4 separate regions of the Homo sapiens genome follow, and regions 1, 3 and 4 are each linked to region 2. The links come from fine-mapping of genetic effects on gene expression. A gene starts in region 2. Each other region holds a variant in brackets. All regions are shown on one strand. Distances are from middle to middle.

Region 1 (7,878 bases), 52 kb before region 2:
CTCAGGAGGCTGAGGTGGGGGGATCACTTGAGCCCAGGACTGGAGAACACAGGGAGACTGACTGTGCCACTGCACTTCAGCCTGGGTGATGGAGAGAGACCAAAGCATAGACAACAACAACAAAAAATCGGCCAGGCGTGGTGGCTCTCACCTGTAATCCCAGCACTTTGGGAGGCTGAGGTGGGCAGATCACCTGAGGTCAGGAGTTTGAGACCAGCCTGGCCAACATGGTGAAACCTCATCTCTATTAAAAATACAAAAATTAGCCGGGTGTGGTGGCGGGCGCCTGTAATCCCAGCTACTTAGGAGGCTGAGGCAGGGAGAATCGCTTGAACCCGGGAGATGGAATTGTAGTGAGCTGAGATTGCACCACTATACTCCAGCATGGGCGACAGAGCAACACTCCATCTCAAAGAAAAAAAAAATAATTCCTGCAGCCGCCCTCAGCCTCCTGGACAGTCTGCTGCTTCCCTGGGTTCTCCAGAGCCCTGCCTTTGCCTGCCTGTCCTGAAGGGTCTGGGAGCCAGATGTTGGGAGATACTGGCAGAGGGAGGGGAGTGGCTCTGAGCTGCTGCCCTTCCCCCCACAGCTGTCCCCTTACCCTGTCATCCTATCCCTGGAGAACCACTGCGGGCTGGAGCAGCAGGCTGCCATGGCCCGCCACCTCTGCACCATCCTGGGGGACATGCTGGTGACACAGGCGCTGGACTCCCCAAATCCCGAGGAGCTGCCATCCCCAGAGGTGACGCCCCCCAGCCCCTAGCCTGGGTGGAGGGAGGTCTGGTGGGAGTCCGCCTCCCCGCACTGCTCGTGCCACCTCTGTGGCTCAGGACCCCTCACCTCTTGCTGCCTTAACTTTTCTCTGTTCCTCTGTTCATCTGAGGTCTGCCATCCCCTGGTCTTGTCCTTCTGCTGCCCTCTGGCTCTCCATTCTTGACTAGACCCCCCCACACACACACCCTCTTCTGTAACCTGGCTTTGCCCTGCTGGCCCTGTGTCCCTGCCCGTAGAGTCCTGCAGGCTCTGCCATTCCCACCTGCAAGGCCCCGCTTGACACTTTCTCCACCTGGAAGTCCCTTCTCGGCCATCCACACTTGCCAAGCGTCACCTGCTTAGAATTCAGCTCAACTTCAGCCGCCTCTTCCTGTGGCCTTATCCACTTCCCCAACTCTCGGGCCTGAGGCGGCCTCCTGCTCTCCCCCAGACACCAGAGCGCGTCCTCGGCTCTCTCCAGACATTTATCCTGTCGGGCTCCTTGAGAAAACTCTCCTCCTACTTCCAATCCCCAACATGCAGGCAGGGTTGACTCACCCTCGTGTGTGTGTGAGATGTGATTTTTGTTATTACTGTGAAAATCACACCCGTATGGTAAAAGAAAACTGAGCTGTACTAAGGGACGCGATGAGCAGTGCTCCCCTCCCTCCACTGACCTGTCCTCTTTCACAAGAAGTAACCATCTCTAACTTTCTTGCATGTCCTTCAAGAATTTCCCCACACACATTACCTGTGTACATATGTGTACTGTCTTCTCTTTTAAATGGTACCAAAAAAGGACATGTGATTCCAGGTTGTAGCCTCACTTCTTCCACGTAAGATCTTCTTTGAAGAGGGTCCCTTTCCTTTCAGTCCTGAGCTGTCGCGTGCATTGTAGTGGCTGCTGTGTATATTCTGATGTTGAGGGACCTTATTAAGCATCCCTTCCTGATGGCCTCCCGGGCCATTCTCCACTCTTTCCTATTAGAAACATCGCTCATCTCTGTGTCTCCTTTCCTGCCTCCCACCCCTAGCCAGCCCCTCACAAGGCGGTGGTTGAATAACTGACTGACTGGCTGCCACAGGGGCGAGAAGGCCTAACCCTTCATCCTCCACGTTGGCCCCCACAGCAGCTGAAGGGCCGGGTCCTGGTGAAGGGAAAGAAGTTGCCCGCTGCTCGGAGCGAGGATGGCCGGGCTCTGTCGGATCGGGAGGAGGAGGAGGAGGATGACGAGGAGGAAGAAGAGGAGGTGGAGGCTGCAGCGCAGAGGCGGCTGGTGAGAGCTGGGATGGGTGGGGTGGGGAAGGGGGGGAAGGTGGGAGGACGGATGTGGGAAGCGGGGGCCAGCTGAACCCCGCTGAGCCTGGTCTCCTAGGCCAAGCAGATCTCCCCGGAGCTGTCGGCCCTGGCTGTGTACTGCCACGCCACCCGCCTGCGGACCCTGCACCCTGCCCCCAACGCCCCACAACCCTGCCAGGTCAGCTCCCTCAGCGAGCGCAAAGCCAAGAAACTCATTCGGGAGGCAGGTAGGAGCTGGGGCACTGGGTGTCTGGGGGCGAGAGGGTGAGAGACCTCCTGAAGGGAGTCTGGAAAGGAGTTGAGGGGGCTTTGGGGGACAGTAAAGAGGTCAAGAGGACCCCAAAGAGGGGCTGGGCTGAGGGAATGAGGGCCCCGCACATGCCAGGGTGGATGGAGGGGAGTGGCACGCTGAGGGCGGCCTGCTGTCTGCCTTCAGAGCCCTGTGGTGGGGCCGGCCATAGAGGGTGATGGGTCAGGCTGGGCTGGGGGCTGGGGGAGCCCAGCAGCTGCTGCAACACTGGGGAGGAATTCCTGGGGCAGGTGATGCTGAGAGGACACATCACCTGGAGGACTAGGAAGCAGCCAGGTGAAGAGGGGAGAGCGCTTTCCAGACAGGAGGAACAGGTTGTTGAAGGCCTGGGGCCTTGGCCTGGAGAAGAATTCCAGGAACCACAGTGGAGCTGGAGGGCCGTGGGCATTCAGTGTACTTGGTTGGAACTTTGTCAGGAGCTGGGAATTGGGGGCTGGGGATGCAGGGCCAGGCTGTGTGGCTGGAGGGGGTCCCTGCAGCCTCCTCAGTGAGCTCCCCTCTCACTCTAGGTCAGAAGAGAGTGAGGAGCGGGGGCAGGGTGACCTGGGGACGGGCTTGGGCTCTGTTCCCTGGAGGTTACAGGCCGGGGCTTTGGGTGAGGGACCCCCGGAGTCTGTCACGGTCTCACCCCAACTCTGCCCCAGGGAACAGCTTTGTCAGGCACAATGCCCGCCAGCTGACCCGCGTGTACCCGCTGGGGCTGCGGATGAACTCAGCCAACTACAGTCCCCAGGAGATGTGGAACTCGGGCTGTCAGCTGGGTAAGTGGGGGCCACAGGAATGAGAGCAGGCGGGGTGCCACAGTGTGGGGGAGGCCTCAGCAGTGAGGGGCCCACACAGCCTTCCAGACGGTGGAAACACGCATTTTGTTGATTATTTTTAAAGTTGCCAGCAATGTAGGTGGGAAAATCAAATCAGGCTCGTTTGTTCTTGACAGTGTACAGGTCTCGCATTTTTATCATGGTAGAAATTAAAATCTCCACTCCCATGTCCCCCGGACACACACAACCCCCACACACCTGGCAGTCCCACTAAGTCAACACTGACAAGGGTGGGCTCTGGGGGACGCTGAGCCCCACCAAAGGAGGGCTGTATCGTCTCCTTGGGGTAAGGATGGAAACCCCAGGCTTCCTCAGACCCCTGGCTCTGACCCAAGCCTGGCCCTGAGGGTGGGGGCTTTTTTAGTACCTCCCACCCCAGTCTTGAGGGATCCCAGGGCAGAAGTACAGGTGACAGTGGGGGCTGGGTCCATGACCCCCTCCCCTAAAGTCATGGTGGGAGCAGAGCAGCACTAAGCAGACAGTGGGACCCCAGGCCCTTTGTAGAGAGGAATGCAGTCCCCTGAAACTGAGTAGTGAGAACAGGGCCGCTA[A/G]GAGCCCCTGCTCTGACCCTGCTGTGTCCACAGTGGCCTTGAACTTCCAGACGCCAGGCTACGAGATGGACCTCAATGCCGGGCGCTTCCTAGTCAATGGGCAGTGTGGCTACGTCCTAAAACCTGCCTGCCTGCGGCAACCTGACTCGACCTTTGACCCCGAGTACCCAGGACCTCCCAGAACCACTCTCAGCATCCAGGTCAGCAGGCTGGAACGGGCCCCAGTGTGGGGTCAGACTGGTTCTAGAAAGGCTCTTTGTGAGGTGGAGGAAGGCAAGGGAGGCTGGGGACATTTGGAAGTGAGGGTGGTGTGAGCTTGAGGCCCATGAGGGGATGGCCAAGGTGGGCGTGGGCCCCAGCCACTCCCTCCCTCACCCACAGGTGCTGACTGCACAGCAGCTGCCCAAGCTGAATGCCGAGAAGCCACACTCCATTGTGGACCCCCTGGTGCGCATTGAGATCCATGGGGTGCCCGCAGACTGTGCCCGGCAGGAGACTGACTACGTGCTCAACAATGGTGGGCAGCCACTGGCGGAAGTGGGGTTGGGGGAGACTGCAGAGAGCGAAGGGTGGTGCAGGGTGGGTCCTGGGGCCCCTGGGCTCTGACTGCCATCCCTGTGCCCTAGGCTTCAACCCCCGCTGGGGGCAGACCCTGCAGTTCCAGCTGCGGGCTCCGGAGCTGGCACTGGTCCGGTTTGTGGTGGAAGATTATGACGCCACCTCCCCCAATGACTTTGTGGGCCAGTTTACACTGCCTCTTAGCAGCCTAAAGCAAGGTTGGTGGAGGCTGGTGGGGATGGAGAGGGATGTGGGTCCAGGTCCTGCAGACCCTGTTCACCTTTGTGCCTCGAATTTCCTGCCCTGAAGCAGGCCCGGGCTGGGCCAGACCCCCAGGGTGCACAGAGGACCTGAGGCCTGGCTGTCCTCCCTACAGGGTACCGCCACATACACCTGCTTTCCAAGGACGGGGCCTCACTGTCACCAGCCACGCTCTTCATCCAAATCCGCATCCAGCGCTCCTGAGGGCCCACCTCACTCGCCTTGGGGTTCTGCGAGTGCCAGTCCACATCCCCTGCAGAGCCCTCTCCTCCTCTGGAGTCAGGTGGTGGGAGTACCAGCCCCCCAGCCCACCCACTTGGCCCACTCAGCCCATTCACCAGGCGCTGGTCTCACCTGGGTGCTGAGGGCTGCCTGGGCCCCTCCTGAAGAACAGAAAGGTGTTCATGTGACTTCAGTGAGCTCCAACCCTGGGGCCCTGAGATGGCCCCAGCTCCTCTTGTCCTCAGCCCACCCCTCATTGTGACTTATGAGGAGCAAGCCTGTTGCTGCCAGGAGACTTGGGGAGCAGGACACTTGTGGGCCCTCAGTTCCCCTCTGTCCTCCCGTGGGCCATCCCAGCCTCCTTCCCCCAGAGGAGCGCAGTCACTCCACTTGGCCCCGACCCCGAGCTTAGCCCCTAAGCCCTCCTTTACCCCAGGCCTTCCTGGACTCCTCCCTCCAGCTCCGGAACCTGAGCTCCCCTTCCCTTCTCAAAGCAAGAAGGGAGCGCTGAGGCATGAAGCCCTGGGGAAACTGGCAGTAGGTTTTGGTTTTTATTTTTTGAGACAGGGTCTCGCTCCGTCGCCCAGGCTGGAGTGCAATGTTGCAATCATGGCTCACTGCAGCTTTGAACTCCCAGGCTCAAGCGATCCTCCCATCTCAGCCTCCTGAGTAGCTGGGACTACAGGCACAGGCCACCAAACCTGGCTAATGTTTAAATTTTATGTAGAGATGGCGGGGGGGGCGGGGGTCTCCCTATGTTGCCCAGGCTGGTCTCGAGCTCCTGACCTCAAGTGATCCTCCTGCCCCAGCATTCCAAAGTGCTGGGATTACAGGTGTGAGCCACTGCCTGGCCTGGCCGTAGGTTTGTAACTGTTTCATAGAAGAGCCCTGGAGAAGACAGTAGAATGAGCCTATCTAGTTTAAAAAATAAAGAAGCACGTTGATTTCACCACCGCCACTCCCTGAGCACCTCTATGCTGCCACCCCCACAGGCCCATGAGGAGGGACAGGGCTGGATGAGTTTCTTGGGCCTCTCCCCTCAACAGGGCATGGACTTGGCTAAGACAGCCAGGGGGTGGCAGCAGGAGATGCCACAGCTCTAAATAGCCCGATCCCTGCTCCTGGCTTAAAGCTGCTGCGAGTATCACAAGACTGTCTGAGGATGCCAATTCAGCAGGTCAGCGCCTCCCCACAACACACACACACACACACACACACACACACTCACACATACACAGAGGGGCCTTGAATGAGGAGGAGACAGGAGTCTGAGGGACCCTCAGACTGCCACTCTCCAGGCTTGGCTGGGCTCAAGGCCCCTGTCTGCTCAGTAGGGCAAATCCCAAGGACACGGGCTTCCCTTCCTCCAGCCAGCCAGCCTTTTACACAAAGGCTGGAAACGCTGCTTGGGCCGCCTCTATAGAAATGCCAGGAGAGCGCACTGGACACTAGGCGACAGAATCTGGAGAAAATCCTGCACCCGCCCCTGCCAGCAGGGTGAAATGTGGAGGCCTGGTGTTTTAGGTTCTGCCAGCCAACAGTGCCGGCACTGGACAAGGGCAGAACTTGACATTAGTCCCCAGAGGGTGGCCTGGAACTGGGCTGGGATAGGCCTTGAACTGGCCCCAAGCCCCACAGAAACCAAAACACAGGGCTGGGGCAGACTCCACCTTCTAGCAACTCCAAGAACTAATGCAGAAAGTGGCAGTGTCCCCCGCTCCTTCATGCTGGGAGTGGCGTTTGGCTCTGGTTAATTTGTGTGTCTGAAAGAGGATAATCAGAATCAAAAGGGCCCAGAAGGAATGGGCCGAGCCAGGCGGGCCGGGCCAGGCAGCCCGGGCATCTGGCACTCAGGGCTGTCAGAGGGTCAGGCTGCCAAACTGCAGCCTCAGGATGGGAGGCACAGTGAGGCTAAGTCCAGTTTTAGCAAATGAAGAGCCATTAGCATTGCCCAGCCCCTGCAGAGCCAGGTCTGGCCAGGGGCTGGCTGGGGGGTCTGGGTCAGGTGAGCACCAGACCCAGGGCTGAGTGCCCATCCTGCTTGGCTTCTCTGGTTTCGTATCTGGTACCAAGAGGAAGGGGTGAAGGCTAGGATGAGGGCCCAATACTGAGAAGGCTGCCTTGAAAGGGCAAGAGTCTTTTTTTTTTTTCTTTTGAGACAAAGTCTTGCTCGTCCCCCAGGATGGAGTGCGATGGCGTGATCTCGGCTCACTGCAACCTCTGCCTCCCGGGTTCAAGCGATTCTCTTGCCTCAGCCTCCGGAGTAGCTGGGATTACAGGCGCCCGCCACCATACCCAGCTAATTTTTGTATTTTTAGTAGAGACGGGGTTTCACCATGTTGGCCAGGCTGGTCTCGAACTCCTGACCTCAGGTGATCCACCCGCCTTGACCTCCCAAAGTGCTGGGATTACAGGCGTGAGCCACTGCACCCAGCCAAAAGGGCAAGAGTCTTTAAGGAAGTGAACTGGGAAGCAGAAGCAAGGGAGAAATCACAGGGTTTTTTTTTTGTTTGTTTTTTTGAGATGGAGTCTCGCTCTGTCGCCTAGGCTAGAGTGCAGTGGCACGACCTTGGCTCACTGCAAGCTCCGCCTCCCGGGTTCACACCATTCTCCTGCCTCAGCTTCCCAAGTAGCTGGGACTACAGGCGCCCACCACCATGCCCGGCTAATTTTTTTGTGTTTTTAGTAGAGACAGGGTTTCATAGTGTTAGCCAGGATGGTCTCGATCTCCTGACCTCGTGATCCACCCGCCTCGCCCTCCCAAAGTGCTGGGATTACAGGCGTGAGCCACCATGCCCAGCCTGAAATCACAGCTTTTTATCCCAGAGGCCCATGGGTAGAAACAACACATAGGGCTATGTTCTCTCAGCCCAAAGCTAAGGGCAGGAAAAAAGGCATGGGCCATAGGAGCCTGAGTGACTTGGTTTGGGACAGGAGGGTTGGGGGGCTTTAGAGGGGTCAGGCAGGTCCTGTGTCCTCTCAGTTTCCCTGGAAAGGGGCTTGGAGGCACCAGTCATGGACCTGAAAGGATCAGGGGGTCAGGGAATGGGTAAGTTCCAGAGGATGAGAAGAGGGGGAATGGGAAGTCTTAAACACAGCTAC
Region 2 (7,878 bases):
TGGGATTACAGGTGTGAGCCACCATGCCCTGCCTCTGTAGGTATTTCATAAAAACTGTAGTGAGGCTTACAATGAGAATTATTTGGGGAGAGAAAATGTGTATGTAAGAAAAATCTGACATCCTCTCACTTGGTGAGGGGAGATGAAACTCCACTAATACTGGGCTAGGCACTTTAATATCTGCCATTCATTCATACAGCAAATACTCATTAATGCCCACTAAGTGCTAGGCATTTCGAAGACACAATCCTGTTTACATGCTCCTTACTGTCAGATGAGACAGGTACCAGACACATTAAGAAAAATTACCAAACATGTAGTTATATTTATTGTTATTATAACTATTGTTACGATAAAAGCTACAATACAGTATGTGATAAGAGCAGAGGGGCAAGCTGGGAGGTTAGGGACGATCTGAAGAAAGAGGAGGAGGGAGGAAAAGGAGTGCATTCCAGATGTTATCTCATTAATCCCTACAACTCTGAGTTAAGTACCTTTCCCAAGGTCACAGGACTGTTAAGTGTCAGAGCCAAGCTTTGAGATGAGATTTTGAGATCAGAGGCTTGCTCTGTCGCCCAGGCTGGAGTGCACTGGAGAGATCTCAGCTCAGTGCAACCTCTGCCTCCTGTTTTCAAGTGATTCTCCTGCCTCAGCCTCCTAAGTAGCTAGGATTACAGGCGCCTGCCATCATGCCCAGCTAATTTTTGTATTTTTAGTAGAGATGAGGTTTCACTATGCTGGCCAGGCTGGTCTCAAACTCCTGACCACAAGCGATCTGCCCACCTCAGCCTCCCAAAGTGCTGGGATTACAGATGTGCGCCACCGCGCCTGGCCTCAGACCAGATTTAAATTATTCCAAAGTCCATGCTTTTCTACTGTGCCGTGCTGCATTTTCCCACATTGCTGCTTCTCCCCAAAACCATTTCCTCTCAAAGTTCATGGAAAAATGTTGACTCTACCCCAGATTCTTAGTGCCAGAATTAGACTCTCTCCTCCAGACTAGGCCCTTGGTTTTTCACCTACTACCTCCAAACTCATTTTCACAGATCTTTAGATTTGGGACGCTAATAAACATAATTTTTTCACCCAGACCATAACCATGCACAGAGACACCACTGCAAACTGTCAAAGTTTTTAAGGTTATCACTTACTTCTACTACAAATAAAATAATTTTATTTATTTATTTTTTTGAGATGGAGTCTCGCTCCGTTGCCAAGCTGGTGTGCAGTGGCGCAATCTCAGCTCACTGCAACCTCCGCCTCCCGGGTTCGAGTGATTCTCCTGCCTCAGCCTCCCGAGTAGCTGGGACTACAGGTATGCACCACCATGCCCAGCTAATTTTTCTATTTTTAATAGAGACAGGGTTTCACCATGTTAGCCAGGATGGTCTCAATCTCTTGACCTCGTGATCCACCCGCCTCGGCCTCCCAGAGTGATGGGATTACAGGCATGAGCCACTGTGTGCCACTTTTTTTTCTGAGACAGGGCTTTGCTCTATTGCCCAGGCTGGAGTGCAGTGGTGCAATCTCAACTCACTGCAGCCTCCACCTCCCAGGTTCAAGTGATTCTCCTGCCTCAGTCTCCGGAGTAGCTGGGACTATAGGCGTACGCCACCATGCCCAGCTAAATTTTGTATTTTTAGTGGAGACGGGGTTTCACCATGTTGGCCATGCTGTTCTCGAACTGCTGACCTCAAGTGATCCACCTGCCTCGGCCTCCCAAAGTGCTGGGATTACAGGTGTGAGCTACCACGCCAGGCCAATAAAATAACTTTCTGGCACACAGTTTTGAAAAGTGATTCACAGATTATAGGGCACAAACCTAAGGACACTGGTCAGGACAACAGTTAAGAAGATAAAAATAAAAGCAACTACAAAAAGAGCAAAGAAAATGCCACACTTTCACTTCTGGAATGACTTTCACATTCACCAACTCTCATCTGTGATTCAGATCTCTACTCAGGAGAGCTTCACTTTCCCTTCTTCCTGTTCCTACTTCCTCTTTCTCAGCTCTTCCATTTTTAGGAATATCAAACTTCAAAAGAAGACTTTTATTACATTAGATCTGTTGTGAGTTACAGCAACAGAACAGTCTTATAAAAACTAAATTTGGCAAGCTTCCTATTCCTCTACTTTCTTCCTGTGATTTTTTTTTTTTTTTTTTTTTTTTGAGTCGGAGTCTCGCTCTGTCGCCCAGGCTGGAGTGCAGTGGCGTGATCTCAGCTCACTGCAAGCTCTGCCTCCTGGGTTCACGCCATTCTCCTGCCTTAGCCTCCCGAGTAGTTGGGACTACAGGCGCCCGCCACCACGCCCGGCTAAATTTTTTGTATTTTTAGTAGAGATGGGATTTCACAGTGTTAGCCAGGATGGTCTCGATCTCCTGACCTCGTGATCTGCCTCCCAAAGTACTGGGATTACAGGCATGAGCCACCATGCCCGGCCCTTCCTGTGATTTTTAATGCCGGCTGAAGAACATAAAAGCTAGATCTTTTAACCTAAGATTTACCACAAGCAGATTATAAACCACTTAAATACAGTCATGCTTCACTGAACGTCAGGCATATGTGCTGGGAAATGCATGGTTAGGTGATTTTTGCCTTGCCAACATTATAGGGTGTACTTACACAAATCTAGATGGTATAGCCTACTAAATGCCTAGGCTATATGGTGTACATTACAGTAACATGCTATACAGGTTTGTAGCCTAGGAGCAATAGGCTGCTGCATGTTACTGAGTACTGCAGGCAACTATAATACAATGGTAAGTATTTGTGTATCTAAGCATACCTAAACATAGAAAGGATACAATAAAAATATGTACTATAATCTTGTGGGACCATCTCTTCTACGCAGTCCTTGGTCTTTATACCTTTATATCTGCACTGCCACCAATACTGCGAATAACAAGCTGGCTACGAAAATCAGACTACCTCAGACTCAGCAAGTTATACACCCAAAAATCTCTCACGACTTTCAGTTTAAAAATATATCTACAAATATAGACAGGAAGATGGGGAGAGACAGCGTGAGTGCCAGTGCCAGGCACTAACCATGTGAAGAAAGATGAATAAGCTGTGGCTTACAGAAGTAAAAACTAATTTGGGAAAAGAATTCAACATTCAAATGCCTGGTGTGTTTCTTCATCCCTAGGAACAAATAGTAACTAATGGCAAGACCCTAAAGTACAGGATAGGCAGTATGGAGCCCGAGGATTCCAAATACTCTCCAAGAAACAACATCGCTCATTTCTTGAAGCCTGGGGCTGCTCTGCAAAGGTAACAAGGCAAAGATGTTCGAAGACTTAATTATATTAATATATCGTTCAGGATACTTATGGATTATTTGGAGCAATGGAAACTATGTAAATCAAAGCATTACCATACCGTTAATTACATAGGTTTATAAGGTGAGTTTATATTTTGGGATTCTCTGGTAGTGATATTTTACAATATAATTATACATACAGTTTGTATAGTCTGATGAGTTTCCTCACTGAGGGTGAACTGCTGCGAAATGTTTTATGATTCGTTTATTGCTAGTCACGTTGTTCAAACAACACGTCTATAAGTAACGTTCCCTTTGAACTGTACTGTTACTAGACTGTCCTGTGTTGTACCATCGAAAACCATCGTCCAACATGCTCTTTTCCCAGGAATGGCCTGAAGCACACGAGTGGAACACTGCATAGAACTTTTATATAATAAAAGTACTGAACGTCTCCGGCCCTTAATATCCAGAGCACCCACCCTTGGTAAATGACAAAGGCAATAACCAATCGCCAGGCAGAATCCTAGTGACTTAGCCAATAAGAACATGAGGGTGGGGCTAGACTAAGCTCCCGGTGACTTCCCCGCACCCCAGAGACCCAGGTTGTGGGAGGCTGGACGGGAATTGGACTCCGAGGATTTCGTTACCCCCGGTTGTAGCTGTTGTCCTCCTCATTCTCGCAATCGCTGCAGTGCTCATGGCCGTTCCCGTTCCCTTCCATCATCTGCGGCAGCGGAGGTGCCGGCGGCTTCACTGCTGTCTCACTCTCGTCCGCCATCTTGAGTTGCGAGAGCAGGGCTCCGCGCCCCACTACATGGGGGGTTCCTATTGGACAAGGGGAATTTGCGCTGCATTCTGGGTTTTGTAGTTTTTCTGGCGAAGCGAGCTGCCACTAGGAGCGACTCTTTCCCAGGAAACTGACTACAATACCCAGGAATCACGAGGGACGGCTCCGGTCGGATTAAGAGGCGGGGCCACTGATACCCGGAAGCCTAGGCATTCGGCCACGCTTTGAGGAAAGAAGGGGCGCAAGGTTGGTGGGACCGACCCTTGGGAACCGGGCGGCCGCCTGGCATGATGGGAGTTGTAGTTCGATGCTGGTTTAGGGTTTCAGGCGTGGAGGTTCCAAAATCCGAGGTTTGATTTCAGCCTGCCCTTGCCAGTGCCTGGGCCGCTGGGAGCCGTTATTGGCTGCCGTTAAGGACCGTTACGTTTCCCGGGTAAGTGAAAGGGCCTGAGGCCCGCGGGTGCTACCTGCCTGGAGCCGGAATGCCCCAGGCCTTCTTAGAGTGGGCTTTTCCGCAAGAAGCCTAGTTGACTCCTGGCCGCCTTCCTCACTCGGGAGTCTGGGCAACCTGCGGTCATTGGCAGTTCAAGGTCTCATGAGAGGCAGTGGATTTTTTTGTGCGAAGCACTGACCCTAAGCCAGGAGACCACACTGCTAGGGAGGCAGGGCTCGCCGCCTCATCTTGGCCTCCAGGTACTTATCTTCGCCAAGCTCTTTCGCGCACACGTGGTCCCTTTAATTCCCCACAAGAATTTTCCACAACGACCCTTTTTTTCTTTTCTTTTCTTTCTTTCTTTCTTTTTTCTTTTTTAAATACGGCCGCCTTCTGTCGCCCAGGCTGGAGCGCAATGGCTCAAGATCACAGCTCACTGCAATCAAGGTATCCTCCCACCTCAGCCTCCCAAGTACCTAGGACTATAGGCATGAGCCACCACACCCGGATAATTTATATATTTTTTGTAGAGACGAGGGTCTCGCCTTGTTGCCCAGGCTGGTCTCGAACTCCTGGCCTCTAAGGATCTTCCTACCCCAACCCCGCAAAGTGCTGGGATTACAGACGTGAGCCACGGCACCCAGCCCACATCAACTCTTTCTTTAATAAGTGCCAGACTCTGTAGTAAGGCATTTCGTACATTATCTCATTTAATCCTCTCAACAAGTCTACAATATAGGTCCTATTATTATTATTCAACCTTTGTTTTGTTTTGTTTTGTTTTGAGACGGAGTCTCTCTCTGACTCCCAGGCTGGAGTGCAGTGGTGCGATCTCGGCTCACTGCAACCTTCGCCTCCTGGGTTCAAGCGATTCTCTTGCCTCGGCCTCCTGAGTAGCTGGGATTAAAGGCGCACGCCACCACACCTGGCTAATTTTTGTATTTTTAGTAGAGACGGGGTTTCACCATGTTGGTCAGGCTGGTCTCGAACTCCTGACCTCGTGATCTGCCCATTTCGGCCTCCCAAAGTGCTGGGATTAGAGGTGTGAGCCACCGTACCTGGCCATATTGACCTTTTTGACAGATGAAAAAATGTGGCCCTGAGAGGTTGGTAAATTGCACAGTCACATAGCTGGTTAAGTGGCAAATCGGTATACAAATCCAGATCTGTGTGCCCCAGGCCCTCTGAATTCTTTGCCACCATAAAAGTCCCATTTTCTGATACACTATTCACTCAAGGAAATCAGTTACTAAAAGGTAACTGTGACTCCAGTGCGTATTCTATATCAGGGGAAAAAAGGTAACTGCCACATTTTAATCTGTTTTTAACCTTGATTGAATGTTTCAGTCCCTGAGTCTCACTCTTTTGATTGAGTAATCTCGCCTAAGTGCCCAAAGACATGGTTCCCATTCTTGGAAATTTCCTATTCGGGTTGAGTGTGGTGGGTGATGAGAGGACTAATTCTTACCATCAGAGTGCTCCATGGCCAAAAAGGGAAATGATCTTTGCCTTTGGGAAAGATCTCAACATGGGAAGAATGGCAGGGCGGGAAGAAACAGTTCCCATCTGACTCAGGGAAAGAAAACACAAATAAAACACAGAACTAAATATAGTCAACTCTTTCTTTCTTTTTTTTTTCTGAGACGGAGTCTCGCTCTCTTGCTCTGTCGCCCAGGCTGGATTGCAGTGGCGCGATTTTGGCTCACTGCAAGCTCTGCCTCCCGGGTTCACGCCATTCTCCTACCTCAGCCTCCCAAGTAGCTGGGACTACAGGTGCCCGCCACCTCACCCGGCTAATTTTTTGTATTTTTAGTAGAGACGGGGTTTCACCGTGTTAGCCAGGGTGGGCTCGATCTCCTGACCTCGTGATCTGCCCGCCTCGGCCTCCCAAAGTGCTGGGATTACAGGCGTGAGCCACCGCGCCCGGCCAACTCAACTCTGTTTTTATATCAATGGCATAAGCATAAGTAATTATGATCCAAAGCAGCAGATAATCCTCAGTCATTTATATTTGACTTTGGAAGGCAGTCAAAGATGCCCACTCAGTCTGAGAGCTGTCACCACACTCAACTCTCCGGGGTCTAAGACTGCTGTTCAACGCGATTGCCCTATTTGCAGCTGCAGGGAAGGGGGGGGTCAGAGGTAAGAAGAAGAATAATAAAGCCAGGCCAGGCGCTGGGGCTTATGCCAGTAATCCCAGCACTTTGGGAAGCCGAGGTGGGTGGATCACCTGAGGTCAGGAGTTCGAGACCAGCCTGGCCAACGTGGCGAAACCCCGTCTCTACTGAAAATACAAAAAAATTAGCTGGGCTTAGTGGTGGGCGCCTATAATCCCAGCTACTTGGGAGGCTGAGACGCGAGAATCTTTTGAACCTGGGAGGCGGAGGTTGCAGTAAGCCAAGATTCTGCCACTGCACTCCAGCCTGGGTGACAAAGTGGGACTCTGTCTCAAAAAAAATAAAAAGTAGGCTGGGCGTGGTGGCTCATGCCTGTAATCCCAGCACTTTGGGATTACAATAATAAAATAAAAGATAAAAAGATATTTTGTGTGTTATTTTTATTTATTATTATTTTTGAGACTGTCTCGCTCTGTCGCCTACGCTGGAGTGCAATGGCGCAATCTCGGCTTGCTGCAACCTCTGCCTCCTGGATTCAAGTGATCCTGCCACCTCAGCCTCCCCGGTAGCTGGGACTACAGGTGCGCACCCCCATGCCTGGCTAATTTTTGTACTTACAGTAGAGATGGGGTTTCACCACGTTGGCCAGGCTGGTCTTAAACTCCTGACCTCAGGTAATCCACCTGCCTTGGCCTCCCAAAGTGCTGGAATTACAGGTGTGAGCCACCACGCCCAGGCTTTTTTTTTTTTTTTTTTTTTTTTGAGACGGAATCTCACTGTCACCCAAGTTGGAGTGCAGTGGCACAATCTCGACTCATTGCAACCTCTGCCTTCCAGGTTTAAGCGATTCTCCTGCCTCAGCCTCCCAAGTAGCTGGGATTACAGGTGCCTGCCACCACGCCCAGCTAATTTTTGTACTTTTAGTAGAGACAGGGTTTCACCACGTTGGCCAGGCTGGTCTCGAACTCCTGACCTCAGGTGATCCGCCCACCTCGCTCTCCCAAAGTGCTGAGATTACAGGTGTGAGACACTGCACCTGGCCTGAATTACTGTTTTTTTTTTTTTTTTGAGATGGAGTCGCACTCTGTTGCCCAGGCTGGAGTGCAGTGGCACTATCTCGGCTCACTGCAACCTCTGCCTCCTGGATTCCAGCAGTTCTCCTGCCTCAACCTCCCGAGTAGCTGGGATTACAGGCACACACCGCCATGCCCAGCTAATTTTTTGTATTTTAGTAGAGACGGGGTTTCACCATGTTGCCCAGGCTGGTCTCCAAC
Region 3 (7,878 bases), 34 kb before region 2:
TTCACACCTGGTGTTTTTACTTTTAAAGTTCTCTAAGGAGAGATTATTCAATTGTTTTAAACAACTTTCTAAGGCAGAGGTTGCCCTTAGATCACATAGCTGACTTGCTCTATTTGGTGCACACAATATTCAAAACAATTTGAGCCAACCATTTAAAACTTTAGGACATTTCCCATAAAAATCCAGATTTGGGCTCATCCCTAAAAACAAAAACAAACCACCAGTACCGCCCCCCACCATCTCCAAATGGCAGCAGCCAGCAGACACCAAGAGCCCTCCAGACAAGGCAGGGACTTGCCAATCTGCCATCCCTACAACCCTCCCGCCCTCTCCATGCTCCCCATCTGGCTCCTGCAGGCACCAAGTGCCCGCCTTACCAGATACGCCAGAGGTGGGATGCTAAGGGCGGAGCTGTGACTCACAGTGGCACATGCTCCTCAACTACAGTGCAGACACCCGCATTTTTGGGGCCTTACAGGAAGACAGTTTTACCTGCAGGTGCCAACGGGCTTTGGTAGTACCACCCCGGCAGTGTAAACTGCTTGGAAGATGCCCTCCAGGTGAACCCGCCTGGTGATCTCTCGGATCAGAACTGGAGCAACCCTCTTGGAACGCAGCTTCTTGTGGACACACAGGAAGTTGATCTCTACCATCTTCTTCTCTCTAAGAGGGGGAAAAATCCAGGTGACAAGGTTTTTAACAGGGAAGGGAATGGTGATCCCATCAAGCACGTGCAGCCACACCTAGAAGGACCAGGTCTGCAGCACGGGTGTACTTTTAGCTGCCACCTGCACTCAGTACTGGGACTCCCCACCACACTCCACCAGGCAAGGAGCCTGCCTCACTTCAACAGAATCTATTTCCAAAGGAAGGTGGGACCCAAGCAAACACCTTTATTTGAAGGTACCACCAGCATCTCCCTGATGAGTCCCTAGGAGTTGGCTGGGGAATCCCACCTTTAGCATGCAGGGAAGCAGCACAGGGAACCCACGGGGCAGGTCAAGGCAATTCTAGGGTTTCAAGGGTTCTGATTCCCTCAAGAACACAGCTGGTAATAAGCCCTGAAGACTGTGGCAGGCAGATGGTTTCAACACTTCCAGGGAAAATGAAGAGCAGAGATCACAGGCCCCAAGGACTATCTGAATCTGGGTCACACTCGCTCTGGCCCATTTCTGCTGCTGTTCAAGTGCTTCCATGTGTGACTGGTACAGGCGTTCAAAAATGAGCCTCTGATTAGCCAGGTGTGGTGGCGCATGCCTGTAATCCCAGCTACTTGGGAGGCTGAGGCAGGAGAATCGTTTGAACCCTGGAGGTGGAGCTTGCAGTGAACCAAGATCGCACCACTGCACTCCAGCCCGGGCAACAGAGTGAGACTAAGAAAAGCCTCTGGCCAGGCACAATGGCTCACGTCTATATTCCCAACACTCTTGGGAGGCAGAGGTGAGTGGATCACTTGAGCTCAGGAGTTTGAGACTAGCGTGGGCAACATAGCAAGACCTTGCCTCTATAAAATGTAAAAAATAATAAACAAAAACAAAAACAAGCCTCTGCTGAGCAGGCACACCAGGCCTCAGGGTGGGCTCCTTCCAACCTGGGCCACAAACAAGGGAGCTGGCTGGGACTCTGAGCAGAACAGGTGGTTCCTAGGATGAATCTGCAGTCCCCGCACCTGGGCATCCTCCCTTCCTGAGACCTTCCCTCTTCCTTTCATGGGGCACATTGTGCAGCCTTTTTCTACTCTCTCCCAGACCAAGCAGGATGGCGGTGTTGTGGGGGGTGGGGGTAGGTGCAGGTGCTTACGTGTCATAGATATGGATGTTTGCTGGGATGGCGCTAATGAACCCAACCAATTTCCGACTTGAGACCACTCGAACCCCACAGTGCCACTGGGGGAGCCAGCCGGGTGGCCGGAGAGCCCTGGAAAAGAGAGGCTGGGGTGGTTGTGCTGCTTGCCGGCAGGCTGGACAAGCCGCTTGGGCTCCACAGCCAAATTTGGTTCGGACCTGGTGCTACCACCTCCCTGAGGGTTAATAGCTGGATTCTCTTTAGGGCCAAGCCCTCCTGGACACACAGAATCGAGCCATCACCATTTCTGGCTGCTCATCCCATTTGGCCTAGTTACTCATCCAACCCAAGGTTATCATACTGAGGATTTCATGCCTGATCCAATTTCTGTGTTCACTTTGACAGCTTGAACCAAGGTACTGGCATCTTTGGTTCGGAGGCCAGTGGGTCCCATGGTTGAGAGCTGACTGTGGCAACCCTGGAGCTCTGGTGTCCTGTCTCCCTCTTTCTGGTACAAATTCTTCCTTCCCTTTCAGGTAGTCCCTCTCCATTTCGGCCCATGCCTCTCTCTTCCTGGATATTAAACGTGGCCTGGGCAGGTGGATGGCTCAGCCAGGCAAGGCTATACAACTGAGCATGCTCAGGAACTAGATAGAAAATGTGCCTTCTTTTCTTTCAGTCTTAGTAGGTCTCATGCCCGTTCCTTTCTTATATAAAGTCACCAGACAATGAATACCTCTTCCCTGGGTACTAGCTCTACGAAGGTCTCCCTCACCCAGTCAATTGTCTTAAACAAGGCTGCAATTCTAAGTGCTAATGAAAGCAAGTGTCCTTCAGATGCAGGAACTCAAAAATGACACACTAATTTGCCATTCAAAGGTTGGCCCCTGGCAGGGATGAAAACTCTGGTGCCCTCTGGTGGATCTGCTCTATGCCTTCCTCTCAAGAACCTCAAGAAAGCCCCCACAACTTACCACAAAAGAAACTCCGGGGAATAATCAAATCGGAACATGTTGTCATCATCTTCCACATAGTTCTCATTCAGGAGGGTGTACAGTTCTTTTAGCTGTAAAGAAATAAGCAGCTCACTTGGAGGTATTCTGCCAGGTAGTAGACCAACTCCAATACCCTGGGGCTCTAGGCTTTTCAGAAGGATGAAGCAAACTACCAAAAACGACGTGGAGTCTCACAAATCCTTCTGCCCCCTGGCATGGTAGGAACTCTTGGAGCAAACACCCTAGTTATAGTAGAAAACTGAGCCATCACGTGGTAGAGTGGCAGACCGAGAATGCCACCTAACTAACCAACCACTTCATCATTCTGCGCCATCAACAATGGAGAGCCACTGGTCTCAACTTCTGTGAAGTGCTATAGAGGGACGACTCTCGAAGCTAGTCAAGGAATTACCACGGAGAGTCACTGCTGTTTCCCACCTTGTCTGATTTTTTACCATCTGGCCCAAACAAAGGCCTTTTTTCCTTTCTTTTCAAGATAGA[G/C]TCTCACTCTGTTACCCAGGCTGGAGTGCACTGGTGTGATCATGGCTCACTGCAGCCTCCAACTCCTGGTTTCAAGCGATCCTCCTACTTCAGCCTCCTGGGTAGCTGAGACTACTGGGGCATACTACCATGTCCGGCTAATTATTAAATTTTTTTCTTTTGTAGCGGGGGCAGTCTCACTATATTGACCCGGCTGATTGATTTTGAACTCCTGGGCTCAATCGATCTTCCCACCTTAGACTCCCAAATTGTTGGAATTACAGGTGTGAGCCACCACACCCAACCACAAAGGCCTTTTTCTGCCTTCTCAGCTATCTCCATCTGCTGGCCCAACTTTGGTATTAAAAAATTCTGTTGGCCCGGTGTGGTGGCTCAAGCCTGTAATCCCAGCACTTTGGGAGGCTGAGGTGGGCGGATCACCTGAGGTCAGAAGTTTAAGACCAGCCTGGCCAATGTGGTGAAACCCCATCTCTACTAAAAAATAAAAAAATTAGCCTGGCGTGGTGACAGACACCTGTAATCCCAGCCACTGGGGAGGCTGAGGCAGGAGAATTGCTTGAACACAGGAGGTGGACGTTGCAGTGAGCCAAGATTGTGCCATTGCACTCCAGTCTGAGCAACAGAGCAAGACTCCATCTCAAAAAAAAAAAAAAGACTGGGCGCAGTGGCTCATGCCTGTAATCCCAGCACTTTGGGAGGCCGAGATGGGTGGATCATGAGGTCAGGAGTTCGAGACCAGACTGGCCAACACAGTGAAACCCCATCTCTACTAAAAATACAAAAATTATCCATGCATGGTGACAGATGGTTGTAATCTCAGCTACCTGGGAGGCTGAGGCAGGAGAATCACTTGAACCTGGAAGGTGGAGGTTGGGGTAAGCCAAGATCGCGCCACTGCACTCCAGCCTGGGCAACAGAACCAGACTCTGTCTCAAAAAAAAAAAAAAAAGCCAGGCCTAGTGGCTCATTGCCTGTAATCCCAGCACTTTGGGAGGCCAAGATGGGCAGATCACCTGAGGTCAGGAGTTCGAAACCAGCCTGGCCAACATGGTGAAACACCATCTTTTCTAAAAATATAAAAATTAGCTGGGCGTGGTGGCACTCACCTGTAATCCCAGCTACTCGGGAGGCTGAGGCAGGAGAATCGCTTGAACCCAGGAGGCAGAGACTGCAGTGAACTGAGATGGTGTCACTGCACTCCAGCCTGGGCAACAGAGCGAGACTCCATCTCAAAAAAAAAAAAAATTCTGTTGACTTTTTTTTTTTTTTGAGACAAAGAGTCTCGCACTGTCACCTGGGCTGGAGTGCAATGGTGAGATCTCAGTTCACTACAACATCCCCCTCCCAGGTTCACGAGATTCTCCTGCCTCAGCCTCCTGAGTAGCTGGGATACAGGCGTACACCACCACACCTGGCTAATTTTTTGTATTTTTAGTAGAAATGGGGTTTTATTATGTTGGTCAGACTGGTCTCAAACTCCTGACCTCATGATCCGCCTGCCTCAGCCTCCCAAAACGGTGGGATTACAGGTGTGAGCCACCACGCCCGGCGACATTTTCATCATTCTTTATAAGGGAAATAAATCCCTCAGGTCAAAACAAGGGGCTCTGGGTGGCCGGGGTGGAAAGGGGAGGACAGGGCCTCATTTAGCAGCCCCAGCTGCTCCAGTCAGGAGACAGACTAGAAAGAAAATGAGGAAATGAATGAACAAAAAAGAATAAATGAAAAACAGGTATCCACATCGGGGACCTACAGAGGTTAACTTCCAACCTGCCAGAAAAGCTAAGAGCTATTTATGTGGAGTCTTGGCCATGCCCCAGGAAGTTACAGACGGGAGTCTGTTCAGACCTCCTTGGCTCAGCTCTCTAGGGCTCGAGTAAACGTAGTCTAGGTGAGACTGCAGGGCTTACTGTGAAAGTGGCTCCTACCCGCAGGTGTAACCTTCTGAGGGCCCACTCACCACACCACGATCGCCCAGGTCCAAAGCATCCCAGGTGAAGCCCTGGGGCAGGGTGTAGGGCTCCTGGCGGATATTGTCCTTGTCAGGCTCCACGGGGCCATGGGTGTTCACCACTTCGCCTGAAAGAAGAGCACAGCTGTGAGCCTCACCCTTTGCCCCCTCGGGGCAGTAAAGGGCTCAGTTCAAAACTCAACCAGAGCAAATTCCTCCTGTCCCTAGGAGCCCTCTATCTGAAGAACATTCTGTGCTTGGCAACTGCAAACCGTCTTTCCAGCTACCCTTAGCCCCTAACTGAGGGCCAATTCATGGCAAAACCTCAGGACAATCACTGGGATCCAAGGTGGTTCGTGTTTTGGAAATCCATTTAAATCTCCCTTGGGTCACTGAATGACAAACATTTATCTTTAGTAATTTGGCTTCCTGCCTCCTGGTTGGTGTAAAGAGTGCTGTCAGGGCCCTGGCCCAGGCCCATCAGTCTGGATGGGTTTGTAAGGAGTCACAACAAGGCTGCTTTTGTGTCAACAGCAACAACAATGTACTGGGCCCATTTCTGAACCAGATGATGGCTTCTAGGCGCCAGGCTCAATCGTGGCCCTGCCAGCCTTGGCTTTCAGCAGCGTGAGCCAGTTAACTGCTACTGCCAACTCAGGCCCTCAGTGTTTAGAGTCCTGCAAGTGCCTTTGGGCTGAATCACCAAGTCTACATAGTGCTGCCGGGAAGTCACCCTGACACAACATCCCCTCCCTGAGCAGGATAGGCCCCTCCTCTGTGGGAGCATGTGGGGAGTGCTCCAAAGACACAGCCCTCATTCCTATCCAGAGCTCAATCGGACTCATATATGCTGAGAGATTCACCACTGAATTCTGGCCCTTGGGATGATTTCGGTTCTACAATGGGCTCACTCATGTTTACACTGGGAAGAATGCAATGTTTAGTGCATTTTGGAAAATGGAGTCTTCAAAAGGGACCAACCCAGTAACAGTGTTCCTAGCAAAGGGCTCTGTATAGACTAGGCACTCAATTCATGCTTTTACTGACTTTCAGACTCCTGATCCCAAATATTTTTTTTTTCTTTTCTTTTCTTTTTTTTTTTTTTGAGACAGTCTCATTCTGTCGCCCAGGTTGGAGTACAGTGGTGCGATCTTGGCTCACTGCAACCTTCACCTCCCTGGTTCAAGCAATTCTCCTGCCTCAGACTCCCGAGTGGCTGGAATTACAGGTGTCCGCCACCACGCTGGCTAATTTTGGTGTTTTGTTTTTTTTTTTTCAGTAGAGATGGAGTTTCACCATGTTGGCCAGGCTGGTTTCAAACCCCTGGCCTCAAGTGATCCACCCGCCTCGGCCTCCCAAAGTCCAAACATTTCATTCTAACATGTAACAGGAAGCTCTAGACCTTCCCAGAATGATAATCTGTGGGGCAAGTGTGGTGGAAAGGGCTGCATCAGGCTGCAGCACACGACACCACCGCTGGCACTGATCATCTCACCCTCTTCCATCAGACACATTACTGAGCACCAACCGTGCACCAGTGACTCAGTGACCATGCCAGCCCCTAGTGTACAGCAGGAAAAAGGACCAAGTCCCTGTCCTCATGAGACATACCATCTTCTGGGGAAATAGTAAATAAATGAGTCATTATCCACGTGCTGCAGGTCAGGATCTGGAAAGTGCAGGGACACACAACAGGGAAGCAGCCTGCTCTGTTGGTAATCAGGCTTCCCAACAGGTTTGCTTGGGAGAGAGGTCATATTTTTCTTCCCTAGTTAGGAAACTCATGACTGGCGAGATGGGGTCTTGCTCTGTTGCCCAGGCTGGAATGCAGTGGCGTAACCTTGGTTCACTACAGCCTCGACCTCCTAGGCCCAAACGATCCTCCCATCTCAGCCTCTCGAGTGGTTGGGACTATAGGCATGCGCCACTACGCCTGGCTAATTTTATTTTTCATAGAGATGAGGTCTCACTGTTGCCCAGGCTGGTCTCAAACTCCTAGACTCAAGTGATCCTCCTGCCTTGGCCTCCCAAAATGCTGGGATTATAGCATGAGCCACGGCGCCCAGCCAAAACCCACCATTTGATTATTCATAAAGTAGCTCTTGTGAATTTAAGTCAATCCGCTTCCAACTGACAGCTATGTATATTAAAAAAACATTTTTGAGCCTACAAAACTGAGGGCCAGACCCTCTAGTCTTATCTAGGTGCTAATTTCCCAACTTGTATTGAATTTATACCTTTTCCTATACACTTCAGAACCTTCTTTTTTTCCCCCTGAATTATTTCCATGGCCAAGAATACTGATGGTCTTCCCTATTGTACTAAAATAACCTCAAGGCTAAATCTTCTCATTTAGGCTGGCTACTAGGTCCTACACGCAACAGGCACTTCCATTCACTCACTCCTTCACCAAGTGTTCACTGAATCCTAGAATGTGCCAGTTCTGTGGCAGGGGCTGGCGAATGAAACAGACACAGGTCCTCACCATCATGGACACCAAAGAGATGAGCAAGGATGCACATGCCACCCGGCATGGTGAGGGCCAGTAAGAATGAAGTACAGGGTGCTATGGGACGTGTGTGTGTGTGTGTGTGTGTGTGTGTGTGTGTGTGTGTGTGTGTGTGTCAGGAAAGACCTCTCAGAGGA
Region 4 (7,878 bases), 43 kb before region 2:
GCCTGACATTTTCCATAAACCTGGTGTTAAAGTAGCTGGGTGTGGGCTGGCCTTCAAATAAGACAGAAGCCTCTTCAGAAATAGGCATGTGTGGGGAAACGAGCCCTATACAGGCCTCGATCCGGAGTGGAGGCCTCCTACTCAGCTCTCTCCCTACACACAGACTGGAGTCCGTGGTCAAATGCAGAGTCAATCCAAAGGCAGGAGGTAAAGGTCGTCTTTGAAACATGGCAGCTGGGAGGACTGGGTGGCAGAGGGTGGGGGCCAGGCCCAGGGAGGCCTTCCAACAGCAGTTGCTCGAGGACGGTTAGCGTGAAGGCCTCAGGGTCCTTCCTTTGCTTGGTTTGAGACAGCCATGGCGCTACCACACTGCAGGGCTCCTGTGGGGAGGCCCTGACCCCCGGGATGGTGCTCTCTGAGCTGAAGTCCCAGAAGGGGTTGAATGAAGAACGCAGGGACTACTGGGACAAAAATCAGATGAGCAGCAAGCAGCCCACAAGCCAAACCCTGCACACCTGGGCAGAGTTCTCACCGCAACATAAAGCAGAGTCCGAGGAGCCGGCCACCTGGTTTCAGTGAGGGAGATGCTGGGGCCTTTGCCAGGAGATCTGTTTCTTCCAGAACAGCCACTGGGGCCTCACCGTTTCCATTCCATGACCTGGGTCAACCGAAACAGAGCTCACTCCAGAGATCCGCACAGCCCAAATCTCAGAGGCAGCTCAAGCTGGGACCTGGCCCAGAACAGATCAAGACTAGGACAGGGAGCCTTTCCAAGTTCCAGGTTCCCCCAAGGTAGGAAAGACTTGGGCACTTTGTCCTTTGATATCCTCAAAGGTCTGGACAGGGTGAGCCACTCTGGGGCTTGAGGCACTGTGCAACTGTTGTCTGTGGGGCTGCAAAGCAAGCCCCTGCCTCTCCGACTCCTCCCACCTGTGGAATGCAGTGCGCATCTTGCTAAGAACAGCAGCTTCTTTGGTCTCAGTTTCTTGGAGTCAAGGAGCAAACGTCAGTCACGATTGCTGGGGCCTGCAATTTGCAGCGCAGGAACAATGGGAAAAGGGAGGGCCCTGCAGGCCCCTGATGAAAATCCACCTTAGTGGAGTTGCTGGCTCTAGCAGCAGTCTGCAGAGCGGGCAGCATTCCCACGGGTGGCACGGCCCCCATCCCAAGCATACGATGTCTTCTGGTTTTGGAAACTCTGCAGAATTAGCCTCTGACAAACCACACCAAAACCCACAGCCTGCAACAAGCCCCTGCTGGCCTGTAGAAAGTGGCTTCGGTGAGTGGCACAGGGCTGAGCCTGGCCTCCTGGCTAAGGCTTCATTCCTGTATGAGCGGAGAGGTGACGGCAGCAAGGAAACCCGCACACCACACGTCATGCTACCTCCTTCCCACCACTTGCTTCTCTCTAGAGCAAAAATTACATCCAAGCCTGGAAGTACAATTTCACAGCCCAATTTTGCCCGGTCACTTGGCTGAACACCACTCCAGAATGCCTACATCGACAGCCATGTGACCAGAGGCTTGATTACGTTTTGGGAAACTGGCAGCACTGACAACCATCACTACCACAAAAATCCACAAAACAGCATCAGCGAAAATCAGACTCAGACAATGGAGATGGGAAACCACTTCTGTTGCCAAGTCCAGATCTGCCTCTAATCACTTCTTGCTACCACTTGCAGGCTGTATCTTGGAAAGGGGCACAACAAGAAATGGCTAATGGGTTGGAAGGCACAGGCCAGGGGCTGGTGGCTGAAGGGGTCTGGGTATTGGCCCCACGCCACTCCTGCCTAGCCACCCCAGGGACATCAGGGTGCTGGCTCTTTGCTCTAAGATGAGCTAAGCAGGGCTTACACTGATAATGGTCTCCAAAGGTCCCTGATGTTACAAGGAGGTCCAAGGGCCTCTTCAAACTGCATCATCCCAGGCAGTGGAAAAGCAAAATCTCACAGGGGACTCATCCCTATAAGGTTGGCAACAACTGGCTAAAGAGCCCTTTTAAATCAGTTGGCAGGATGACTTCCTACAGGGAGCAGGCCAAGGGGATGGAAGAAAGGACTCAATCAATGAGGTCTGCTTCTGCGGACCGTCCATTGCTTTGTCTCAGAATGCAGGCAGGTCTGGCCCTGCAGGAAAGTCCCTGCCCAGGGTCAGCCCCAGCCAAGAGCTCCACGTGCTATCCCATGAGATCTGAGCCTGTTCCATCTTCCCTTCCTTCTCAAAGCCAGTCATCCCAGCTGATTCAGAAGGGGAGCTGGATGAGGTTCTCCAGATCCTCTTTTTCCCCATGATAAGCCAATGTCTCCTCTGGAGGAAACCATGAACTGTGCCAACGCGTCTGTCTGCCACTGTCCTCGGGTCCTCATTCTGAGGAATGATCTGGATTCAGCTTTTCATTAAAGACCAAACATCCTTGTACATTTGGAACATGAAAGATATTTAAAATATTTATATATATATAATATATATATATACTTTTATTATTCACCCGTTAACTCCATTATATGCCAATCACGAGCTAGTTTTCAGCAGTTACATTCCCTTGATCACGGCTGCATGAGGATGTAATTAACTGGAAAACACGGAGACCAGAGACACGACCGGAGGTGACGTCACGCAGCCCACGCCATCGCAATACAATTGTCAAGTTCGCTGGCGGTTTGGTAAAGCCGGTTCAGTTCTGCTCCCTTTGCCAGGGATTCTCACGTGTGTGAAAATTGGACCAACAGTGGTGGGGTTCCATTTCCTGGTTCGAATTTTCAGTGGCTTTATCCAGAATCGCACTGGTGACTGGTTATTGTAGCACCAGTCCAACCTAGGAAAGCCAACAGGGAGAGGCAGAGCTGAGTTGACAGTGGCCCAAAGACTCTCCCACACCCCCTATCCCTGAAGTTCCGAGTGGCTGGGCCCGGGTCCACCGCCTGTGCTGTGGGAGCAGACTCACACCCAGCCGGCCCCACACTCAACCTCCACACCAGGGTTCACACGTCCATCAGACCTCCCAGGGAAAACTGGCCCACGCTCCAGCTCACCCCTATGTCCCCTGTGGCACTGGGGGAGGAAGGGCTAAGAAAGTGTCATGCCAGAAGAGGGCAGCAGCTCAGGAGAGGAAACCTCCTCAGAGTTCCCCCAGCCCTACCCTCCTGGCAAACCGTGGGCAACTCAACTTCCACGGTTCCCTCACGTGGGAAGGCCTCATTGGAGATGATCTTCGTGCTACTGTGTGGCTCTGTCCCCTCTGCCATCCTCACACCAGTTGCTGAGAGGGGAACGCTGACCTGCTGGTCTGGCCAGCAGAGGGAGGGCATTTTCAAAGGTTCAACTCGAGGTAACAAGGACCCAGACTGCGGCTGTCTCCTCAACCCATGGCCCGGTTTCTGCTGGAGACATGGACACCCTGGGCCGGGCAGCCTGGACTCTGGCTATGTGTCGCCTACCTTCTCTGCCCCCATGCTGGGGCATTTCCAATTGTAAAGGTAATACTGCAGGTTGCCGTCCCCTATGCCAAACTTGAGCTTCTCCAGGAAGGTTTTGTTCTCCATGAGATCCAGTGCATTGAACACATCAAACCCTTTCTGCAAAGCAGCAGGGACAAACAAGAACAGGTGAGGACAGGTGGGGACAGCCTCCTTCCTACCCCTTTGCTGCCATTTCAAAGCTGTCCTGTGGGCAGCCACAAGAACAAGGTTCCCTCAGAAGCTCCGCTGCTTCCACGTTAATCCCCGCTCTCCGGGTGGTTCTCAGGACACTCTGAGCGCCCCCTCCAGCCTGGCCTCTGCCCAGTGTCCCTCAGAGTGTACACATATGTACTCAGTGTCCAGGCCGGGGCTCTTGCTATTCCTGGTTATGCCTCCCTGAAACTCTAGTAATTTCCACAGTCCTCTCTGGAGTCCAAACCCTGAGCCCATTCCTCTGAGAAGCTGGCTCTGGTCAGCTACATGGGGTTTGTGTTGCTTCCTTACTCCATGGATGCCCCAACTCTCAGGCCCTCAGTGCACCTCATGTTGTATGACACCTGCTGTGTTGCTTGGAGACTGTGAAGATGCTTCCTAAACCTCACCAACTGGAGCAGAAGCTCTCACAGGGCAGGGACCAGATTGCCTACAGCAGGCTGGGCTGGGCTGGGCACAGGTTACCAGAACCCACAGCAAAGCACTGACAGACGGGCTCGCCATCCGCTACTGGCAGTTGGATGCTCCAATGACTCACCACGACAGACAGCAATCACCCCTTTCCCACGCTGGGAAAGCTGTGAGGAGAAGCCCTGTCCTCCCAGGGAAGGCCTGGCTATTCAGGCTCCTTGGTGGCGCCTCCTGTGAGAACGAAACTCACTGAAATGAATCAGGAGGAGTTCAATGCCTTCACTTCGGATGCTCCTTGTTCCCTCCAAGTTTTGAGTTTCTGCCTAAAAACTGCGGGAACCCTGCCTAAGCAGAACAGATGAGGAGGGCTCAGAGCCTCCAGCCCATGGGAGGCTGCGTCCCGGGAGCTGTGCTCACCATGGCTCCACTGCC[T/C]CTTCCCTGCACATCTCCAGAGACCCCCCCGTCTGCTCCTCACCATTTTGGCGAGGACAAGGGCGTCGCTCATGAGGTCTAGAAGAGGGGTCTGGGTGTGAACGTTGTAGAAAGAATAAGCAGCTTTGAGACTCTTGTGGGTTGGATGGTTCATGATGGTGGAGGGCAGCGTATAAAAGCTCAGGAAATCTGTCACCTCTCCGTTTGCGTTCTGAAGGGAAGGCAATAAAGAGGCAATGTCAAGCATGCACAGTGGCACTGCGGCCCGGGAACAAAATGTTTCTCTCACTCCACCTTCAGGCAGCTCTGCCCCTCTAGATAAATGGCTGGAAACTGCAACAGGACATGTGGGGAGGAGGAGGGACATTGGCTCAGGGCACTTGAGGACAGAGCCGTGATCGTGGGCTGAACCTGCCAGACCTCTTTCCCAGCATGGGCACCGCCAGGGACCTCTTCTTGCAGCTCACATCCCCCCAGACTGTGTCTCCTATGTCTGGTCAGCACTGGGTTAAGCTGGGACAGGCAGGGAATTGCAGGCTTTCCTGAAGGATTAAGCGGGGCTCAGTTCTCTCTATTTTGTGTTATCAAAGTGGGGCAGAGGGGGAGAAGGGCTCAAGCCAGATCCAGAGGTATCTTTTCAGCAAATTCAAGCACCAACTCCCTGTTTTTAGGGAGGACCAAACACGGATGGTCAAGGAAGTCTAAGGTGCCAACACTCGAGCCCTGGGAACCCGGCCACTCAGGGGGGTGCCTCTCTGGGAACGTGTTAGAGACCTGGAACACCACTCCCTGACTCACCTCCACCACGAAAGTGTCGATGATATTCTCCTGGGGGTAGAACCAGTGCTCCACCTCCTCCTGGCTCATGACGGGCGTAAGGTGAAATTGCTTCAAGTACCTGGTGAGGAGCTGGTGCACTACTGGAATGTCCTTTGTTTCCATTGGTCGCAGCCCAGCTGTCTTGGGAGTCTGGAGGCAAGACAGAAGAGATGGAGTGAGATGAGCTGATCACCCTGGATCTATCCATGGCAAGGACAGATCAGGCCCTCAAGAGAGAATCCCTGGTCATTCGGCGGCTCCCTGCACCCCCGTGCATATCTCCTCAGGCACAGGGCCTGCCTCTTCCGTATCTTCTGGCCCTTTCCCTCCTAGTCCAGGCAGACTCAGACTGCTACATCAATCAACCATCTACATGGCCCCAGGCTGACTCCCTAAGAAAACACAACCCTTCATGCTCCACCCTTGTTTCAAACTCCCCACCCCAGAAGACAAGAATTTCTACCCTTGGGCCAGGTTGGCCTTTCTAGCTGTACCTTCTGCCCACGCAGCCCAACAGTCCTCACAGGCTTCTCACTGAACTGTGACTGATGCCATCCCACACTCACTGCTCTTTCTCTGCTAGACTTAGAGCACTTCGCGGACAGACCCCAGGGCCCAGCCAGGGTCTGCCCACCCAGACACTATTACACCAGTACTTCCCAGAGAGACACGGCTGTGGGTTACATTCAGAAGAAAAGCAGCATACTCCCAGGATTTTATCCCCAGTCAGCGTCCCACCCGGCAGCTGCTTTTGCTAGAAAAATGCTTCAGTGGAATGAAACCATGTGATCCTGTGGAGCAAATACCGGGGCTGGTAGAACATCCCCAGAGGCTCAGATACACAAAGGTGGCCTTGGGGCAATCTGCAAACAGGGTGGTGTCACAGTTTACAGGCCTCAGTCAGTGCCTGACACAATGCTTCCCAGTGCAGGAATTGCTTTTAAAACTTCAGTTCTAGAACCTCCAGCCTCTAAAATTCCTTGCTAAATCCTCGTCTCTTTAGGGGAACGCTCAATGACCTCATTCTACATGGCAGCTCCCACAATGATACCTCAAATCCTGGACTGAAAACACAGCCATGCTGGGGTTTCCACCCAGACATGGGTGAGACATTCTTCTGCTGCTGCAGCACTCTAAGAATGCTCTCTGCCTGCCTGCCCACCGGCCTAGAACGCAAGGCAGATCTGTCATGAGAACAGAAGGGAGAAGACACATACCACAGTCCCCCAAGCCTGTGCTTTTGGCAGTGTCTAACGGTACTGCAGCAGTCTCTCAAGATGGGACACTAATGACCCCAATCACTAGGTGGATTAGCCTGATTTCAGAGTGATCAATCCTGTTTAGAGGCTGAGGAGTCCAGGCAGGCAGCCTCATGTCAGCAGGAACGCAGTGACTGTGTGCACTGATGACCAATAGGAAGAAGCACTCCGAGGAAAGAGAAGAGATTTTTTCTTTCTTTCCTTTTTTTTTTTTTTTTTTTTTTGCGACGGAGTCTTGCTCTGTCGCCAGGCTGGAGTCCAATGGTGCGATCTCGGCTCGCTGCAACCTCTGCCTCCCAGGTTCAAGCAACTCTGCTGCCTCAGCTTCCCAAGTAGCTGGGATTACAGGCACATACCACACCCAGCTAATTTTTGTGTTTTTAGTAGAGACAGGGTTTCACCATGTTGGCAGGATGGTCTCAATCTCTTGACCTCGTGATCCACCCGCCTTGTCCTGCCAAAGTGCTGGGATTACAGGCGTGAGCCACCGCCCACCTGAGAAGGGATTTTAAGAATCCCTACTGGGATGGGCACAGTGGCTCATGCCTGTAATCCCAGCACTTTGAGAGGCTGAGGTGGGTGGATCACTTGAGCCCAGGAATTCAGATGAGCCTGGGCAACATGGCAAAATCCTTTTTTTGTTGTTGTTGTTTTTTTTGAGATGGAGTCTCGCTCTGTGGGCCAGGCTGGAGTGCAATGGCGCTATCTCAGCTCACTGCAAGCTCCGCCTCCCGGGTTCACGCCATTCTCCTGCCTCAGCCTCCCGAGTAGCTGGGACTACAGGCGCCCACCACCAAGCCCGGCTAATTTTTTTTTGTATTTTTAGTAGAGACGGGGTTTCACCATGTTAGCCAGGATGGTCTCGATCTCCTGACCTCGTGATCCACTCGCCTAGGCCTCCCAAAGTGCTGGGATTACAGGTGTGAGCCACCGCGCCTGGCCTTCTTTTTTTTTTTTTTTTTTTTTTTTTTTTTTTTTTGAGACGGAGTCTTGCTCTGTTGCCTAGGTTGGAGTGCAGTGGTGCGATCTTGGCTCACTGCAAGCTCCGCCTCCCAGGTTCATGCCATTCTCCTGCCTCAGCCTCCCAAGTAGCTGGGACTACAGGTGCCCGCCACGCCACGACCAGCTAATTTTTTGTATTTTTATTAGAGACAGGGTTTCACCGTGTTGGCCAGGATGGTCTCGATCTCCTGACCTCGTGATCCGCCTGCCTTGGCCTCCCAAAGTGCTGGGATTACAGGCGTGAGCCACCACGCCCAGGCTTCTTTTATTTTGAGACGGAG

Evidence for each region.
Region 1: its variant is fine-mapped to the expression of NMT1 in lung (TOPMed, PIP above 0.99).
Region 3: its variant is fine-mapped to the expression of NMT1 in whole blood (INTERVAL, PIP above 0.99).
Region 4: its variant is fine-mapped to the expression of NMT1 in whole blood (TOPMed, PIP above 0.99).

Annotation. Positions count from the first base shown.
Region 1 is chr17:45,109,496-45,117,373 of GRCh38, reverse strand. PLCD3 (phospholipase C delta 3) reads left to right here. Exons shown (of 15, transcript NM_133373.5): 8 at 590-742; 9 at 1,884-2,030; 10 at 2,130-2,280; 11 at 3,008-3,124; 12 at 3,769-3,935; 13 at 4,117-4,252; 14 at 4,362-4,511; 15 at 4,670-7,878. The coding sequence ends at 4,758. It overlaps MIR6784 (microRNA 6784), which reads left to right and starts at 2,941; the gene lies at 2,941-3,007. RefSeq lists enhancers at 1,982-2,847, 3,714-4,578, 4,579-5,444. The variant A/G (reference allele first, on the strand shown) is at 3,736.
Region 2 is chr17:45,057,497-45,065,374 of GRCh38, reverse strand. It overlaps NMT1 (N-myristoyltransferase 1), which reads right to left and starts at 4,058. Exons shown (of 12, transcript NM_021079.5): 1 at 3,915-4,058. The coding sequence starts at 4,045. It also overlaps a transcript of DCAKD not described here. RefSeq lists enhancers at 3,618-3,697, 3,640-3,934, 3,788-4,147, 3,295-4,286, 4,248-4,427 and 1 more.
Region 3 is chr17:45,091,167-45,099,044 of GRCh38, reverse strand. NMT1 (N-myristoyltransferase 1) reads right to left here. Exons shown (of 12, transcript NM_021079.5): 4 at 5,242-5,360; 5 at 2,760-2,851; 6 at 1,801-1,917; 7 at 493-663. Among named protein-coding and RNA genes, the nearest start is that of MIR6784, 19 kb to the left of the region's middle. RefSeq lists enhancers at 1-416, 417-917, 7,820-7,878. The variant G/C (reference allele first, on the strand shown) is at 3,282.
Region 4 is chr17:45,100,559-45,108,436 of GRCh38, reverse strand. NMT1 (N-myristoyltransferase 1) reads right to left here. Exons shown (of 12, transcript NM_021079.5): 9 at 5,316-5,486; 10 at 4,561-4,728; 11 at 3,441-3,578; 12 at 1-2,818. The coding sequence ends at 2,798. Among named protein-coding and RNA genes, the nearest start is that of MIR6784, 9.9 kb to the left of the region's middle. RefSeq lists enhancers at 1,077-1,578, 4,411-4,911. The variant T/C (reference allele first, on the strand shown) is at 4,518.